Linked DNA regions of Homo sapiens: region 2 is linked to region 1. A link means that fine-mapping ties the variant in region 1 to the expression of a gene that starts in the linked region. Tissue or cell type: whole blood. Region 1 holds a variant in brackets; the other region holds the start of a gene. All regions are shown on one strand. Distances are from middle to middle.

Region 1 (4,236 bases):
CTAAGAAATAGAGTAGTTGTAAAATTGGAACAGAACATGTCAACTGTAGTAGCTACCTCAAAATTCCCCCTTCCCTAGAAGGAGACGAGCGTTTTCCAGAAAAGGAGACCTGCATCCCTCCCGTGGGCTAGAAGAGACAAGATGACACTCTGAGGGACAGCAGCAGGTGGCCAGGGCCTGAGAGCTCAGGGGTGTAGGTATGATATACAGATAAAACACAGTTGCAGAGTTCCTGCACACACAAGTGATGCCACCCATACCTTTTTTGTTTTGATAGTTTGATTTCTTTATTATAAATTCAGTCTTCTGGTGGCTTAAAATTTAAAATGATTCTCTTTAAGATATAGTCAACATTAGTGCCTGGTATCATGGCACACGCCTATTGTCCCAGCTACTTGGAGGCTGTGGTGGGAGGATCACTTGAGCCCAGGAGTTCAAGGCCAGCCTGGGCAATATAGTAAGACCCTTGTTTCTAAATATATGTCTGTGTATGTGTGCATATATATAAGTGTCTGTATATATAGTCAACATAGAATTCCAGGAGTGCTGCTAGTATACACAAAGAGGGAGGAAAAAGGTACCAGCTTTAATAGTAGATAAATCATTGATTTTTAGGCTAAAAAATAGTAAATATTTGAAATAAGATATTAAGTTAAATTTTCAGAAGCCAGGTGCTATAATGGAGCTGTTTTTAAAATACTACCATATTTAGTTATTTCTAAGATTTTTTTGGCTTTTAATATTTTTTTTCAATCCTGTTCCTTCTGTAAGCCTTTTAATATTCTTAAAATTGGGGTGCTTTGCTGGGCGCAGTGGCTCACGCCTGTAATCCCAGCACTTTGGGAGGCCAAGGCGGGCAGATCACGAGGTCAAGAGATCGAGACCATCCTGGCCAACATGGTGAAACCCCGTCTCTACTAAAAATACAAAAATTAGCTGGGCGTGGTGGCACACACCTGTTGTCCCAGCTACTTGGGAGGCTGAGGCAGGAGAATCGCTTGAACTCAGGAGGCGGAGGTTGCAGTGAGCCAAGATCATGCCACTGTACTCCAGCCTGGCAACAGAGCGAGACTCCATCTCAAAAAAAAAAACTGGGGATGCTTACAGTGAATGTGATTTTAAAAGGTTTTGTCATAGTTTAATGGGCAGTGTTTACTTCTTAAAGTACATAAAATGATGTACCTTTAAAAATTGATGGCATCTGAGGTTCAGTGAAAAGTCTTTAAAATGAAAGCGGAATAGTCAGAATGGAAGAAAACTCAAAATAACTCCCACCCCTCTTGGCAGATTTAATCCCCTAGGAAAAATATCTTTGAATTGCCGTAAAAAGTCATATATTTGCATAATTGCCATTTTGTGGTCTCTTTGTGGCCCCCGTGTCTTTTTTTATACAGTGTGGGAGGCAGACGAAGAGAACACTCGTGGTTCAGGTATTTTCCTTAAAGCACAGGCTTGGAAGTCCGTGAAGAGTGTTTGAATTTAAACCAAAAATTATTCTGAAAGTAGGGGGGAAAAATGAATTTACACAGCAACAACAAAAAATCCACTCACTTCATTGTCTTAATAGACTTGAAAAGGACTTCATGTCGCATTTCTATTGATTTAACCTCGCTGTAAGTGAAAGAGATGTTCGAGAAGATATGCATCCCTGGCTTACGTTTGTTGGGTCTGCCATTTTAGAGGCCCCTTAACATTTTAGCCCTCTCTCCCTTTTCTTTTTCCTCCAAATAGATTGTGATCTATGAAGAAATTTGGCAGAGAAACTGCTATTTAAATAATTCTTCATGAATCACAAATATTTTTCCTCAATTTATCTGCTATTTTATGTCATTACCTGTGACTGTTAGTATTTTAGGACAATTTCATTTG[A/C]CTCCTGTTGGAAATAAGTGTTGCCCTTTTAACTATGACTTCAGTAAAACTCTCAGTGAGCTGATAGGAAAGGATTCTGATTACTCAGCTGTCTAGGCTGGTATACACAGAGCAGTGAGTCTGTATTGTTGGGAAATGAAGTTGGAATAAAATAAAGTTGAAGACGAGAGACTGGAATTTGCCTCACTGAAACTAGAAAGAGTTTGCAGCTTTACTGAATATGCAGGGAGAGAAGAGGAAGCCAGAACTGGCCTGGGGTGTACAGCTAATGGCCAAAGAATGTTCTCCTGAAGACCATGTGCACTTAGGTCTACGGGACCCCTCAGAGCCAATCTTCAGAGCAGAGACATAGGTAGCCTTCCTCCTTGGATGACTCCCAGCTTTCACTTGAGAACCCAGAATCACTCAGGTGCCTTTGCCAGGCACCAGCACAGTGGCAGTTAACTCCCAAGAGAGGGGAGGACATTCTGAATGACCACTTTGCCCCCCTGTCATCCATTTTCAGGAGTTAATCTCTGCCGTAGTTCATTGTTTTCAGAGTTGGAACTTGTCCATTTCTCTAAAAGTACTAAAAGATGACCATTTTAAGGTAGAGCAGATTGGAAAGCTGTTTCAGAGTATTTGGACAACGATTTTCCCCAAGATACCTGGGAATGTGAAGTTGGAAGCCAGTCTGAATGGGGCTCTCGGATATTTCTGAGACATCATCAGGACAAAGGAACATCTGGTAGAGAAATAATTCTTTTTTTTTCTTCCAGCATTGTGGGACTGTCAGCTTCTGTGTCCTCTTTGGTGTCCTAAGCATAGCCCATTTGCTGTCACAGCTTTGCCAGATTGCTAGAGGGCTAGCTTTCAGGAACTCACTGTGGATTTGCTAAATTTTAGTTTGCTTTTAAAAGAACAGAAGCACATTGTTTTTTAAGGGGTCGCCTGTGGCCTCTGCCCCTTCCTTTCTACATTCTCCCTTTCTCTGCCTCCTAATCTCTCTGCGCTGAGCCTAGGGTGAGGGATGTGATGGAGTATCACTTCCCAGCTGGCTTGAGGTGAACACATTCCTCAGACCAAATTTGGCATCAAGCTGTTCTCAACCCACTTTTTTAAAGAAGGCTGGACCAAAGCCATAGGGCATCACTGCCACCAGCCTGTGTTAGTCTGTCACTGTCAGGAGCAGGCCACCCCCATTTGCTGTTCTGTTTTCCTCTTAAATCAAACTGGAAAAACTCAGCTGGATTCTCCTGGCTTTTCCTTTACTCTTCTCCTCCCCCTTTTCACTTTGCAAGTGGACTTTAGAATATGATTTCTTAGGTTTTCTGACTATAAAGTGGTCTATATTAACAAAAATATTAAGTATCTGAATGAGGCTGGGCACGGTGGCTCACGCCTGTAATCCCAGCACTTTGGGAGTCTGAGGTGGGCGGATCATGAGGTCAAGAGATCGAGACCATCCTGGCCAACATGGTGAAACCCTGTCTCTACTAAAAATACAAAAATTAGCTGGGCGTGGTGGTGCACGCCTGTAGTTCCAGCTACTTGGGAGGCTGAGGCAGGAGAATCGCTTGAACCCAGGAGGCGGAGGATGCAGTGAGCTGAGATTGTGCCACTGCACTACAACCTGGTGACACTCCATCTCAAAAAAAAAAAAAAATCTGAATGAGAAAGTGTTTTTAGAGCTCTCCAGTTTATCTGCTACAGAGAAAGAATTTATTTCTGGCCCACCTAGTACAATAGAGAAATTCTTCCAAAAGATAAGATGACCTGCTTATGGTAATGATTACCCTGAAAATCCTTTTTCCGTCACTAAACAGCTGAAAGAGTTGGGGCCAGACACTTGCCTGCCATCTCCTTTACTCCAAGATAGATAATTGCCCAAGTCAGCAAATTCTCTGCTCCTACCTTCCCATATCCCTGCCTTTCTAGTTTCTTTTAATAAGAAGAGCAGAATCCCTCCTGATAGACTTGTGGTGTCCAATGATTAGGTGGGCATAGACGTGCCTGTAAAAGGGAAGAAATGGAACAGAGCCATCTGTTCCTGTGAAATCACTTTCTTTAGTATTAAGTGTAGGTACAAAAAAAGTGTCTTTTGTAATGCATCTCTGTAACACAGCATATTTTCCCTAAGAGAACTCAGAAATACACACACACACACACACACACACACACACACACACACACACACCAGTTATGCTTGCTTTTCTCTGTGTTATGATCAGATATGTTCCTTATCCTTTGCTAGCTACTTGTGGCATCTCAGAGGGGTCTATCCTTTTGAAAAGAATTTTTTAAAAATACCATTAGCCTTTTAAAAAGATGACCACCCTATTAACTTTGTTTTCAACCTTCAGCTCTTTAGTTGAAGATAGTTGAAGT
Region 2 (4,000 bases), 56 kb after region 1:
TGAGCCACCGCGCCCAGCCCCAGAGTTTCTTGTTGATGGAGACTATTAAGAATTTTGAACTTTTTCTTTCTTGAGGAGAGCTCGATGGAATAAGAACATTAAAAAAAAAAAAAAACAAAAACAAAACCAGCTGGGTGTGGTGGCTCATGCCTGTAATCCCAGCACTTCGGGAGGCCGAGGTGGGAGGATCGTCTGAGGCTAGGAGTTCACAACCAGCCTAGCCAACATGGAGAAACCCTGTCTCTACTAAAAATACAAAAAATTAGCCAGGTGCAGTGGTGGGCGCCTGTAATCCCAGCTACTCAGGAGGCTGAGGCAGGGGAATCACTTGAACCCAGGAGGCAGGGACTGCAGTGAGCCGAGATCATGCCATTGCACTCCAGCCTGGGAAACAAGAATGAAACTCCATCTCAAAAAAAAAAAAAGTTTTTAAAATATAAAATTAAAAAAAGTTTAATTACACAAAATTTTTGACCTTATTTCTCTGAAATGTGTCACATAAAGTGGTCAAAACAGATGTGACAACAAAGCCAACCTTCTAGTCACCACCACCAGGTCAGGAAGTGTAGCGCCCCGTGATCTATTTGCAGGGTTGCCATTGTATATGTAAAACCCGTATTCTCTGTACCAAGTCAAGTTGTTCAGTAGGAATGTTAAAGATTTTTATACTTTTCTTTAAAAAACGTATTTTCCTTTATAACTTTTTAAAAATAACATTTTAACCCAGGTCCCCCGCATGCCCTGCACTCGCATGCCAAAGGCTGGTCCCTGGGTCTCAGACAACCATAGTCCAGCGGGGTCACTGACCTGCCCCAGTCATCAGCCCATGGTGGGTCAGAGCAGCGTCGTTCTCAAGTGGGGACAGACCCGTGTTTACAAGATTCTCAACGCCTGGCTGATGTAACAGCGGCATCAGCCTTCCTTGGGGAGAATGACGACTGTATTTGTTTTTACCCTCTTGTTAAAAATGCTGATTTAATTTTCAAGCTTCTTTTCCTTCTTTCCTTTCTTTTTTCCTCCCCCTCTCCCTCCTTCTTCTTCGTTTATTTTTAGAGCCAGGGTCTCACTCTGTCGCCCAGGCTGGAGTGCAGTGGCCTGACCATGGCTCGTTGCAGCCTCGACCTCCCGGGCTCAAGCCATCCTCCTACTTCAGCCTCCTGAGTAGCTGGGACTACAGACGAGCGCCACTATGCCTGGCTGATTTTTTAAAAGTTTTTGTAGAGACAGTCTAACTATGTTGCCCAGTCTGGTCTCGAACTCCTGGGCTCAAAAGATCCTGCCACCAACACCTAAGTGTTGGGATTGCGGATGTGAGTCTCCGCGCCAGGTTTCTTCTCTTTTCTTGTGCGTTTCACGCAAAAAAACCCGAGTCCCTGAAGCTACGCTGCTTTCCTGCCTCTAGGGAAAACGGGAGTTTTTTCTGCTCGTTTGCTCTCTCTCTTTTTTGTTTGCTTATTTGTTTTTAGTATTTTTAGCATGTTTTGGAAACATTTCGTTCCAATGAGTGTTTGAAAAGCAGCTCCCCCGCCCCACGCTCCGGGCGGGCGCCTCCCACTCCCTGACCCCGGGGAGGGTGGGCACCACTCCCAGACGCGGGGGACGCGTGGGTGTCGCTCGGGGGCGCTCGCCTCCCCCACCCAGCCTGTCCCGGGCCGCGAGCGCTTCCAGTCGGGTTACTTCTGGGGGACAAGAAAGGCACCGTCTGAACGGTCGAGACGCTTTTTCCCGCTACGGTTTTCCCCGGAGCTGACAGGGGCAGCAAGGTCGGAGTTGATCCGAGGGTCCCTGCCTGGTCCCGGGGGGACGGTCAGCCTCCCGCCCGGAGCCGCGGGGAGAGGAAGCAGGTCGGGGTCTCCGGGACGCGCAGACACCCAGACACCGGCGGCCTCCTCCCACCAGGCTGGCAGTCGCTGAGCCCTGGCGCCTCCTTAAAGCCGCAGCTCCGCCCCGACCGCCCCGCCCGCCAGTCCGTCCTCAGACCCTCCCAACCGCCGGGTCCCCGCCGCCTCGGCGGAGTGTTGTAGAGCCTCGAGCCTGCGAGGAGCGCGCCGCCCGCCAGCTCCCTGCGTCCCGTCCCGCGTCCCCGCGTTCCCGCGTCCTGCGATCCGCCGCCATGGCCAGTGAGGAGCTGGCGTGCAAGCTGGAGCGCCGGCTGCGGCGCGAGGAGGCCGAGGAGAGTGGCCCCCAGCTGGCTCCCCTCGGCGCCCCAGCCCCGGAGCCCAAGCCCGAGCCCGAGCCTCCCGCCCGTGCGCCCACGGCCAGCGCCGACGCGGAGCTGAGCGCCCAGCTGAGCCGGCGGCTGGACATCAACGAGGGCGCTGCGCGGCCCCGGCGCTGCAGGGTCTTCAACCCCTACACGGAGTTCCCGGAGTTCAGCCGCCGCCTCATCAAGGACCTGGAGAGCATGTTCAAACTGTGAGCTCCCGCTGCGCGCCCTTCGCCCCCGGGACCAGGGAGGGAGCGGGAGGGCTTTCTGGTCCGAAGTCCCGGGCCCTGTTTGTGTGGGGAGGGGTCCCGGGGTGCAGGTAGCATTTGGCCCAACGCAGCCAGATCTTGCGTGCTCGGGTCTATCTCGGCGCGGTGGGGGACGGGGCCGAAGAGGGGGGACACCAGGAGCAGGAGCTCTCCGGGACGGAGCCCAAAAGTTCTCGGCGGCTGCCGGGCCCGAGTTCCAGGTCCCCCAACCCCGACCACTGGTCCCGCCCCCTCCGCCCGCCAGTCCGGAGATTTGCTCCGAAAGCAACTTCTAGGAAAGGGAGCCGTCGCCGCGCCTCACCTGCCAGCTTTCACTGTATCCCCCCAAGGGAAAAATTAGCCCCTGTTGGCCTTTTATCTTTTAAAACAAAAGGGGAAAGTTAATCCTTGGCTGCAGCGCGGGGTCTGATGAATGAGCGGAGGCCGAGAACGGGGAGTTTGGTAAAGTCGTTGTAAGAGATTCAGGACTTTCCTGGAGCAGGCGCGGCCCGGGAGCCTCCTGGGGGCGCGGGGAGGGGGGGCGGTTGTGGGAACCGAACTTGGCCGCTGGCACCGGTCCGGCGGGGGCTCGTTGCGGTCCTGCTCTGTGAGCCCCAGTGCGCGGGGAGCCGCTCACCTGGGGAGACACTGAGCCAGAGGCAGGCGATAGAGACCCACTAGTCCACCTCGTCGCCTGGAACCTCCGGGGATCTCAGTTTCCTCATCTGGAGAGTGGGAGCAGTAACAGTCCCTGCCTTTTAAGGCCGAAAAGTATTTTGCACCCGGTAAGCTCTTAACCGAGCTATTAATATTTCCAGAATTGAGCCGAGACCGGAAAAATGCCTGGGGGAGCTGAGGCCGCCGGCCAGGTCATGCTTGGGCGTTTTTAAAAGCGCATGGAATGTGTTTGCCCTCCGCGTGGAGGTTCTATTTAAAGGCGCTGTGACTGGCGCTGCGTCGCCTGAGCCTCCGCTGCCCCTGCATGGAGGTTTGCAGAGCCGGCACTTGGGAGCCTCCGCCTCCTCTGCCTCCCTGACACCCTGGTTTCTTTGTCTGGCTTCCAGGCACTGATCTGTGGCGTTTTCTGGGTCTAGTTTGGGCAGTTCAGGAAGGCCCAGTGCGCTAAAGAATGCGGCTGGGGCGAAAATGGAAAAGCAATGGGTGAGGCAAGGTTTGTTGGAGCCCTTTGATTTCTCTGGGGTAATGCCTTTCATGGGAAGACTGCCCTGGCCGGGCTGCTCCCAGACCCCACCAGTTCCTCCCAGTCCAGCTGGATTCAGGGGATCTTGGGGAGGGACCTTTATCTTCAAGTTTTCTTGTGGCCACTCAGGCTTCTTTTGTTTTTCCTATAAAACAATCTTTGGAAAGATCAACTTGTAGTTGACTACCTAAGAGTGATAAAAAGAGTCCATATGCTCAGAGGGTCTTGGGAGACGAAGCAAGGTGGCATCTGTGAGCAAACAGGTACTGGACCAGGATCACGCAAAGGGGAGCCGGGCACAGTGGCTTACGGCTGTAATCCCAGCACTCTGGGAGGACGAGGCAG

Evidence for each region. PIP is the estimated chance that this variant, and not a neighbour inherited with it, causes the effect.
Region 2: it holds the start of EFHD1, and the variant in region 1 is the best candidate, but not a certain one, in a credible set for the expression of EFHD1 in whole blood (INTERVAL, PIP 0.51).

What each region holds. Positions count from the first base shown.
Region 1 is chr2:232,575,123-232,579,358 of GRCh38, forward strand. It overlaps a transcript of EIF4E2 not described here. Among named protein-coding and RNA genes, the nearest start is that of EIF4E2, 27 kb to the left of the region's middle. The variant A/C (reference allele first, on the strand shown) is at 1,870.
Region 2 is chr2:232,631,592-232,635,591 of GRCh38, forward strand. EFHD1 (EF-hand domain family member D1) reads left to right here and starts at 2,013. Exons shown (of 4, transcript NM_025202.4): 1 at 2,013-2,415. The coding sequence starts at 2,114. RefSeq lists silencers at 2,051-2,110, 2,188-2,482.